Regions from separate parts of the Homo sapiens genome. Here region 2 is linked to region 1. A link means that fine-mapping ties the variant in region 1 to the expression of a gene that starts in the linked region. Tissue or cell type: tibial artery. Region 1 holds a variant in brackets; the other region holds the start of a gene. All regions are shown on one strand. Distances are between the middles of the regions.

Region 1 (5,374 bases):
TAAATGCTCCGTTGGTACTTTTGTCCTCTCCTTGTGACAGTAGACCTGTTGGAATATATCCTCACTGTTGACTTGGGAACTTGGATTATTTCTTCCTGGGCAACCCTGCCACCAGGCCATCCCAGTTCCCTCTGGCAGCCCAGCACACAGGGCATTGACCATGCATTTAGAACAGTGGATCTCAACCAGGAGCAATCTGGGGACATTTGGCAAAGGCTGGAGACACTTGATTGTCATAGAGGTGCTCCTGATATCTGGTAAATAGAGGCTGGGATGCTGCTGGACATTCTATTCTGCACAAGACAGCCCCCCACAACAAAGGATTATCCAGTCCCACAGTCAGTGGTGCAGAAATGGAGAAACCCTGTTTTAGACGATGGAAGCCTGTATCCCTGGCCTGATTCTTGGGAGTCCCATGCTCCAGGACAGACCATCAACAACAGAAGCAGCCCTGGAGACTCACCCAATGGCACCCAGCGAGGTAGCTGGGGATGGAGGAGACCCATTTCTTGCTGAGAATGTGCCAGCATCTTTGAGGTGCTAAGGAATCAGCTGGGAGGAATCTCAGAGAAGTAGCACCACAACCAGATAAGTTTTAGCTGCCTGATTGTACAGGTGTGAGTGGCAAACTCAAGATATTACAAGTTATGTAAAGGAAATAGCGCATTTTCATCTGCAATGGAAAAACGGAAGCTGCCTGATGGAGCAGCTGTGGCTGTAGCAGCCACCACCAGCCCCAGGCTTGGCTACTGTGGGAGGCTCCACTATTTGCATTTTTATGAATCTGGAGTTAAAGTGGCTGTGAAGATCAACCAGGACAACAGGCCAGAAGGGAGGGGGTACAGTGAAAGCCCATAGAGCTAGAGAGAAGAGACAGTGGTTTCTGCAGGAGCTGGGCTCTGATTTGGCTTTGTTTTCTCTCCCACCATGGCTTCAAGCTCCTCTCCACCCCTTGTTGACCTTCTGGGCTGAGCCTCCAGCCTTCGGTTCTCGTTGGAGAATTGGAACAGACTCAATTTCAGGCTTAATTAAGAAAACCCACCATAGGGCATCCAGCAGGAAGGGCCCCCAGGGGCTGCCTGGGGAGGTGGAGGTATGGTAAATATCTGGGTGCCAGCTGCTTGGGTGTGTCCGTATGTGGGCATTTCTGCAGCTGTTCATGTGTTACACCAGCACTTCTCAAACGTTTGTGGGCTTGTGACTCACCAGAGGTTCTTGTTAAAATGCAGATGGTAGGGCCTGAGACTGCATTTCTTCCAGGCTCTCTGGCGATGCTCCATTTCAGATCACGCTTTGGACAGCAAAGTGTCACACTTCAATTAAAAAAAAAAGAAAGAAAGCCCAGCCCATTACAACTTTAATTTAATTTCATTTTCAGCACCAAGCAATCTCCTCTCCTCAGGTGAGGCTGCCCCTGCTGGGAACTGAAGCGGGGAGGGCTGTGGTCTCATCATTCAAGTTGCAGCTTCTTTTTTTTTTTTTTTTCTGCCATGGCGTCCTGGAAGAGGCCGAAAGATGTTTTCACACAGCCAGTGCTGTCTGGGACTGCTCTTTGTGGGTGGACAAATGGCTGACACCCCAACCCAAGCTCCCCTTGGAGAATGCTCTATAAGGACCTCTGTCCAACCCTCCCCAAATGCACTCTTGGTCTAATTGTTGGTCCTGGCCCAGGCTACACACCCCTGGGACTCCCAGAGTCTGGCAGGCTGCCCTCCACAGAGTACTGGTGCCTGGGAATAGGCACATACCCTGGGTGTCTTAGTCTGCTCAGGCTGCCATAACAAAATACCCTAGACTGCATGGGCTTAAACAACAGAAATTCTATTTCTCACTGTGCTGGAGGCTGAAGGGCCAAGATTATCCAGGAGCTGGCCAGGTGGTTTAAGGTGAGGGCTCCATTCCTGGCTTGCAAACAACCACCTTCTCATTGTATCCTCAGGTGGCAGGGAGAGCAAGTGAGCTCTCAGGTGCCTCTTATAAAGACACGAATTCTATTGGATCAGATTCCCAATTTTGTGGCTTTAATTCAAACACAGTCACACTGAGAGTTAGGGCTTCAACATAAGAATTTGGGGGAGATGCAATTTAGCCCCTAGCATTGGGCACGTCACACTAGCAGGCTGCTCTCCTGGCTCTGCCGTTGTAGGCGGCTCCTGCCAGCCACCAGCCTTAGGCTTACCTTGCATGACCCCATGCCCCACCCCCACCCCCCCAATTCCTGGACACTAATATTAGGCACCATCAAGAACTCCATGAACTTTGTTGACACTTGGGGTGGCCTTTGGGAATCTGCAGCTCAGTAGAAATCCGGCAAGGGAGAGGACGGCTACGTCCTCATCCTGCAAGCCCTC[G/C]CCACCAGCCTACCCAAATAGTTATCCTGGGCTTCCCCTCACTTGGCTTGGGAGGCAGAGGAACGACCCCCTCTTCTCGCACCCATAGGGAAATGCTGTGGTACTTGCTACCGGAGCAAATTCCCTCCAAAAATCTCTAGCCTTCCCTTACAGAGGTAATGGCAGGTGATGGGTTTGACAGTTAAGTATCCCATTTGACTATCTTTTAAATAAATAAGCACTTACATAGCACTTGCTAAATGCCAAAAGTTGTTCTAGGTGCTTTACATCTTATTTAATCCTCATGGTACTCCTGTCTGATAGCTATGATTATTAACCTTATTTTACAGATGAGGAAACTGAGGCTCAGGGAGGTTAGGTAACTTGCAAAAGTCACACAGCTTGCACATGGCAGAGTGAGGATCTGAATCCCAGCAGTCAGGCCTGCAATCACTGCTCTCTGTAGCCTCTCAGAGGCTGGGATGTAGGTGTTAGCATCTCTCTCAGAAGAGAGGAAAATGAGGCTTAACAGGGGAAATAATGTTGCTGAGTTTACATAGCTCCGAAGTGGCAGAGGCCAAATTCTAACTTGGGCCGATGACTCAAAATCCACTGCTCCTCGCTCCAGGGTTATATGTTAAACGTGTCTTTCTCACCTACTTCCCCCACCATTTGGACTTTTGAAAACTTTGAAGCACAATCAGACATAGAGAACAGAACTACTTCCCAACAGACTGTAATGTGCGTTCCTTAGGATGGAGGTCTCTGGGGATCTGGGAATGAATTCCTTGGATAGGTTTCCAGAGGAACTATCCCTTTAGAGTCCTAGAACAAGGATGAGCAGGGATTTGTCCTTCACACACTTCTCTGGAGCTCTTGTCAGAGTGAGAATTTTCAGAAGCCTGGAGCACCCAGGCCACCCAAGCCCCCATCTTTCCTGTGCTCTCTACTGCCTAGCACCCTACTCTCACACCCCTGATACTCACACCTTCCATCCTTAGACTTGACTCTTGACAAAAGGACTCTGGCTTTCCAGAGTCTCAGATTTTACAGACAACTCTGAACCATGCCGTCCTCTGTGACAAGCCCTCCTAACAGTAATAACAACACCAGCTGCTAACAAATAGCATTAAAGTCTCAGCTCACCAGACCTGTAATTCAGCTCCCTGCTTCTTTACTCTGTTGATCATTCTAAATTAAAATAAGACAGGCCGATTGCCAATTTAAACCTTCTAAAGCATTAGCTCATGACCATTTAAAGGTGTGACATCACCTGGCCCCTGGTAGAGGCTCTGTAAATATTTGTGGAACTAATGGGTAAATGGACTTACGAAGGACATTTGAACAGAGGATCCTGAAAGACGCCAAAGCCTTCCCTAGAATTCATCTCCGGTGGTGGCATGACAGCCACTGTGGTTCAGGGAGCTGGCGGAAGTTCAGCAACCTCACCTCCCCACCCCAGGCCCCTCTCCCACCTTGCAGGCTGAGGCAGCTTTTGAATGATATAATAAGTAGAAGTGCTTAGCTTTATGCTGGGCTGTGACAGCTGCCACAGATGGCCACCTGCTTCCTCGGTTCATGGGCCTCCCTGCCCACAGGAGGTGCATGACATGTCCTCAGTCCCCTGACACCATAGTCAACACATCCAAAGCCCTTCTGCTAATTTCTGGCTGAAATCCAGATGGCCAGCCCACTCATCTGGCCATTGTGGACTGTCTGTCCCAGCCTATCCCCACATGACACCCAATCCGTCACCTCAATTTGCACACCACCAACTCACTAGCACTGAGTACTCATCACCCTAATTACTGTCATGGAAGTTGTTGGTGGAGTCGCTGAAGGGGTTACTTCGCCAAACCCATGCCTTCCTCCCATCTGCTCGATCCTCTTTTCTCATTTTACTTCCCTTTGGGGAGCAGAAGGATGCATTTCCTCCTTGGTTTCCACGTGGAATCATTTCTTCCCTTCTGCCCCAAGTACAACTTTAACATCAAGCATTTATCAAGACTTTCCAACCAGGCCTTCTCAAAGTGTGGTCCCCAGACCAGCAGCATGAGCATCTCCTGGAAGCCGGTCAGACATGCAAGTTCTCAGGCCTCACCCCAGACCTACTGACTTGGGAGCTCTGCAATGGGGACTGGCATCTGTTTTAATGTCCTGCAGGGGATTCTGACTGATGCTCAAGTTTGAAAAGCTTTGGTCCAGACAGCAAGTATGCTTTCCCTTGGGAGATTTCTGGCGAATCAAAACGTCTTCTTGTTAAGAAAGTTTCAAGGGGAGTTGGGCTTTGTGGGAGGCAGCTCAGCTTCTTCCTATTCAGCCAACAGAGCGTGGACTTCGGAGTCATCCTGCCTGGATTTTGGTCTTGCTGTCTGCGTCTTATAGCCTGTTCAGCACTGGGGAGGGTGGTTTACCTCGCTGGGCCTAATTTTCTTTCTCAAATGAGTCTTCATTTTACCTTTTCTCAGGACTCTTGTGAGTCTCAGGGGAGATTGAAGACATGGAGGTCCTTTATAAACCAGAAACCTGGGGGTGGGGGTAGGGGCTACCGCATGATCTTTAGGCACGTCCCAAGGTGGGGGCACCAGTGGTGTCTCTCTCTCTCTCTTCCTCTGCACAATCTCTGGGTGCTGAAAGCCTGGGTCTTCTGTTGACGAAAAAAGGAGTTGGGTGTGGGGTGCAGGGCCTGTTGGGAAACTGGGTTTGAAGACAGTGAGAGGCATGCTGAGCATGGGCCAGAAGTCTCCCTCCACACCTGACCTCAGGCTCCCTGGGCAGCTGCCCTGACCCTGCAGGTCACACTGTCTAGGAACCCTGAGCTGAAGGGAGAAGCAAAGAAGAGTGTAACGTGGCACTGTGCAGCATTCTTCCCATATATTACCTCATTCATAACCCAGATTGCAGGAAAAGGAGAGAGGGGAGAAAGGAGAGGGTAGAGGGGAGGGAGGAGAGGGATAATACACTGCTCCAGATTGCTTGATGCAGAAACTGAGGCTGAAAATTACCCACTCTCCATTAGCCTAGCAAGGTACAGCACTTTTCAT
Region 2 (5,374 bases), 22 kb before region 1:
TGGACTGGATTTGAAATCAAGTCTATTAAAGTCAAGTCCAGGACTATTCCTGCTAGATGACACTGATGGAAACCATAACTAATAATATTTTACAGGTACAATTTTATTTACATGTATATAGTGCTTTACAGTTTGTGAAATTTGTTTCCTAATTTTCCTCATTTCAGCTTTCACACTGTGCTATACTGTATACTCTATCTCCATCACTAACGATGTATAGAAATATAATATCCAGTATAAGAAGAGCTGTGGTGGAGGAATGCCCTGAGTGAAGCAGGGGGACAGAAGTGGGAGCAACTAATTGCCTGGAGGAGTCAGGGAAGGCTTTCTGGAGGAGGTTGCATTTGAGTTGGGCCTTGAAGGCTGAGTGAGGCATTCACCACCTGGAGAAGAGAGGACAGGCACTTCTGGCAATGGCACAGGAATGTACTCTGGTGGGTGGGCTGGCAGGTGGGAGCCAACCAGGCAGAAGAAGCAGGTTGGGGCCAGATTGTGTTGGGTTTGGACAGCCACGTGGAGAGGCTAGGCTTCTCCAGCATGGGAGGTGCCCCACTGAAAGACCGCAATACAGGCCTGTCTGATCCAGTGGCCAGGAGCTTTGAGCGCTTGAAATGTGGCTAGTGAAACTGAAGAATTCTAGATTTTGTTTAACTTTAATTAAAATGTAAACCCCGATTTCATTATTGAAAAATTTTTGCAGAATGTTTGAAACAGTACAGGCATGCGAATCGATTTTCACATGTACATTTTATGAAATCTAAATGCAGAACAAGCATTTCGGATGAAAATGTGGGGTCTGAACTGAAATATACTGTGGGTATAGGAAGCACACTGGATTTCAAACTTGAAGACTGTACAATAGCTCATTGATAATTGTTTTATATTGCTTACATGTTGAAATAATACTATTTTAGATATATAGGGTTAAGTAAGAAATATCAGGAACATTAATTTCACCTGTTTGCTTTCGCATTTTAAAATGTGGCTGCTAGAAAATTTTAAATTCCTTGTGGTAACAGTATCCCTATTGGACAGCACTGGCCTGAGATTCCAATGCTTTCAGTAGGATCTGAGAGGCCTCAGACACTGGCCTCTTAACAGCCCCTCCAGTGACTCAGATGCTGGTGGCTGGGGACCCTTCTTGGAGGAATTCTGCTTTAGAAAGGTACCTCTGAGCCAGTTGTGGAGTCTTGCACCTGTAATCCCAGCACTTTGGGAGGCAGGAGGATCACTTGAGCCCAAGAGTTTGATACCAGCTTGGTCAACATAATGAAACCCAGTCTCTACTAAAAATACAAAAATTAGCTGGGCATGGTGGCACTCGCCTGTGGTCCCAGCTAATCAGGAGGTGGAGGAGGGAGAATCACTTGAGCCTGGGAGGTTGAGGCTGCAGTGAGGCGTGAGTGTGCGACTGCACTCCAGCCTTGGGGACAGAGAGAGACTGTCTCAAAAAGAAAAAAGAAAGATCCCTCTGGGTACTGGCTGGAAGTTGGATTGAAGGTGTGGGCCTGGAGGCAGCAGGGCCGCTAGTGTCACCAGGAGGCGAGGGAAGAGGCCCAACTTCAGACGCTGAGAGACTCCCTGAGGGCTAGACAACCCCGAGCTTTCTCTTCGAGGGTCCCGGGTGCCGTCTGCCCTGTCCTGGCCACTAGACCTGGGGTGAGGGGGTAGCTAGGGGAGGGCTGGGCATGGCCCTCGGCCTTGGGGACAGATATTGGGCAGTGCTCTGGGGGAGTGAGTGTACCTCGAGGGGCTGCCGGCCCTGCTGGAAGCTGCCCTCTGGGGATTAACCCTGCACCCACTGGAGAGACCGCAGAAATGCCCCTTGGCACAGAAAGGAGCCCAACTTGGCCGCCCGTTCCTGTTCCTCCCAGGGTGAGAGCCAGGAGTGAGTGGCAGGAGCGTCACAGTAGTAAGGAGGGATTTTCTTTGTGACTCGCTCCTCCTGCCCTGATTAGCACTTAGGTCATGGAGATGAGGCTAATTTTTTGCTCTTGATTTTGCTAAAGATCCTTCGGTGATTTAGAAGCCTTTTTTTGGGGGTGGGGTGGGGTTGGGGGGGTGATACAGAGACAACAGAGCAACAAGTCTCTTTTCAGGGAAACTGTGTCTGCAGCAGATACCCTCCCCTGCCAAGCGCCCACGTCTCGCAAACCTGACACTCTCCGCCCGCCGAGGCAGGCCTGCAGAGCCTACCTTGACTATGTCCTCGTTAATGTTCTTGGGGTCTCGGTTCACCAGGTCAATCTCCTTGCAGTGGATATCCTTGACGATCTGGGCCTCGAGATCTGTGTGCTCTTCTGCCATCATCGCAGAGCTGGGGGGATCCACAGGAGGAGATCCGAGCTGTGTGGCCGGCTGGGGCTGAAAATACTTGGGGCAGAGAGACCAATTCAGTGTCCCCAGACTTATGTCCCTGCCAGCTAAATAGGCCCCACCCAGCATGCCGGCTGACAGCTGTCCCACATAACTTCAGCCTGCCTCTCTCTAAAGCCTCCTGTGGCAGGCCTCCAAGCTAAAATTAAGACTGGAGCTCTTCTGGAAGGCCGATCGCTCCTTAAAGGGGGCTGCCTCAGGGCACTGGGCCTCAGGAGAGGGTGCAGAGGGCCTAGCGTTTCCTATGCATCGTGTGGCTGTGGCCAACTCGGCGGTCGCTCCGGGGCCCCTGGAATTTGCCCCACTGCTGTCAGCATTTTGGCTCCTTTGGGGTGCACTGCCCGTGGAGGGAAGTGGGGTTAGTCCCTCCTCTGCCTCTGGCTGGCTGTGTGACCTTTGGCACACTTCACCTCTCTAGGCCACTCTGTCCCCATCTGTAAAATGGAGAGATGATAATAACAATCAGGGCTCTCCTACCCAGGGAATGGCTTCAGGAGCTGGAATGCGATGTAGTGGGGCTTCTCGTTGGATTGCCAGTGCCTGGCCCTGCTGCTTGGTGACCTGGAGCAGGTCCGAGCTTTGTGGGTTTCTGAGGTTTCCACCTGGAGCAGGAGTTGATGGACTGTGGTGTGGGGCCAGGCTGGGGATGAAACAGGGAGAGGAAGCTGCTGTGGGGCTGCCCCTCGTCTGCCGTCTGGAGCCTGCACTGGGATATGCCCGGTGGGGGGAACATGAAGTCCATGTTCGTGCTACCCTTCACCCTGCCCTAGTGACAGCTTCCAGGATTTTCTTGGGTCCCAGACACTCCACATGCATCAGTGGGGTGCACCTCTCTTAGATACCTGCTCGGTTTTTCTGTGCCCTCTTCTAACTCAGCCTTCCCCTGGGCTCCAGCAGCATGAAGGATGGCAACTCTGAATCCTCAGGGGTCAGGGTCTGTGCTTCCATTTACCTGTCTATTCACTCCTTCATTCAGGATTTGCTAATAGCTGGGGATAAACAGACCAACAAGGCTCTGTCCGCCTTGAAGTGCTCCCAGTCAAGGTGGGGAGACTAATTAAAACAATAAGTGATTATAATACTGTGCGGTAAGTGCCACAGATCAGAGATATTTTACAAAGAGCTGGTCTTAGAAGTCCATAGGAGTCAGTAACTTACTCTGAGGACACCGGGGAAGACTTCCTGTGGGAGGTGGCTTTGCAGATAGGTATCGAATGACAAGCAGGAGCTCAGCACCTAGAACACTTCAAGTTACAGGATTGTGGATATTGAGGAGTGGTATAGACAGGAATGTTGAAAAGTGTGGAGTGGCTGGAGCACAGGGTGTCTGGGGTTGAGGCAGGAGATACAGCTCAGCTCAGGCCTGGGTGTGCAGCATCCCAAATGTCATACTAAAGAATGTGGATTTTGTCTAGGGGTGCTGGAAAGCCATTGAAGGCTTCAAAGCAGGACAGGGTCGGTATCAGATTTGTGTGTGAGGAAGCTCCCTGGTGGCCAGGTGGAGGGTGGATTGGAGCTGGGTGAAGTTTGAGGTAGGAGGGGGAAAACCAGAGGTGATTTAGGCTTTATCAATAATTACACCTGGCTAGTAACACAAAGGATGCAAAAGTAATAGTGACTTGAATAAGGTAGGAACTTTTTTTCTCACTTAACACAAGTAGTTCAGAAATATTATAGTGGCTCCATGATGTCTTCAGACATCTGGACTCCCATCCTTCTGTTCTGCTAGCCCGAAAGCCACCTCATAGGCACAAGATGTCTACTGCTCCTCCAATCATCATCTCTGAGTCTGGATAAGAAGAAAGAGGAAGGGGCAGGGACAAGAAACGACATCTGCGAACTGAGTCGGCTCTGTTATAAAGCTTTGTTAGAAGTCCAACCCAACTACTTCTGTTTATATCTCATTGGTCACTCCTGTCTTGGCAAACGATGATGGAACTGTAGGTTTTTTAGCTTGAGCACATTTTCGGCACCCCCACAGTGTTACTAGGGATAAATGGTGGGCAACCAGAAAACTGTCCCTAAGTCGCTTAGGATTAAGAGGTAACTTTTTTTGTTGCTTTTCCATTCCCTTGCCTGGGTCCCCAGGTCCCCCTGGTCCCAGGTACATGAATATTCTGCAAAGAGATTGTAACAAAAAAAAAGAACATTGCTGCTTGTATTCACAAGGGACGTGGCAGGGATCTAAGCCTGAGCTTAAGCTTTGTGCACCGTAGAACCAGATATGTCTGGTGAAAGGTGGGCCAGCTAATGGCAGTCTTGTCGCCAGGGATGGAAGAGCCACCTAGAAGAACTCATCATCCTAAAGGGGAAGTAATAATAACGACATAGTAATAATGATTATGGAAGGCCATCTTTTCCAAAGATGATGAGATTGACACTCCTTCCACCAAGAGGGAGGGTCTGTGTTCCCTCCCTGGCTGGCTTCCTGGCTCTCTCCTCTCAGGATTCTTGCTCTTGGACCTCAGTCACCACGCTGGGAGGAAGTCCACACCAGCCTATGTGGGAAAACCACATAGAGAGGAGCTGAGGCTCCAGCTGTCAACCAACATCAGCATCAGGCATGAGGGTGAACAAAGTTTTGGATGTTCCCAGTCGCCAGTCTTCAAGTCATCCCCAACCTTCCTGTCTTCCAGCTGAAGCCTCAGACACCATGAAACAGAGAAACTGTCTTCTCTGTGTCCTGTTTGAATATCTAAACCACACAGTTCATGATCATAATCATTTTTTTATGTCACTGGAATTTGGGGGAGCTTGTTTCACAACCATAGTCACTGGATCAATGAGCGCTAATGGCAATAGCAACTACTGTTTGTTGAGAATCATTATGTGCTTGGCTTCCTTCCTAGGCATCCTTGGTGTGTGTAAGGAGGCTCATTTGTTATCTGAAAGGGTCAGTGCCCCTAGCTGGTGATCGGTGCTGAGGGCCAAGGGAGTGGAGCAACTAACACACATTGTGGATTTCACAGGAAGGAAGTGTACTTCAGCTGGGCCAGAA

Evidence for each region. PIP is the estimated chance that this variant, and not a neighbour inherited with it, causes the effect.
Region 2: CAV3 starts here. The variant in region 1 is the best candidate, but not a certain one, in a credible set for the expression of CAV3 in tibial artery (GTEx, PIP 0.51).

Annotation. Positions count from the first base shown.
Region 1 is chr3:8,708,510-8,713,883 of GRCh38, reverse strand. No RefSeq gene overlaps it. Among named protein-coding and RNA genes, the nearest start is that of CAV3, 23 kb to the left of the region's middle. The variant G/C (reference allele first, on the strand shown) is at 2,352.
Region 2 is chr3:8,730,813-8,736,186 of GRCh38, reverse strand. It overlaps CAV3 (caveolin 3), which reads right to left and starts at 2,385. Exons shown (of 2, transcript NM_033337.3): 1 at 2,197-2,385. The coding sequence starts at 2,310.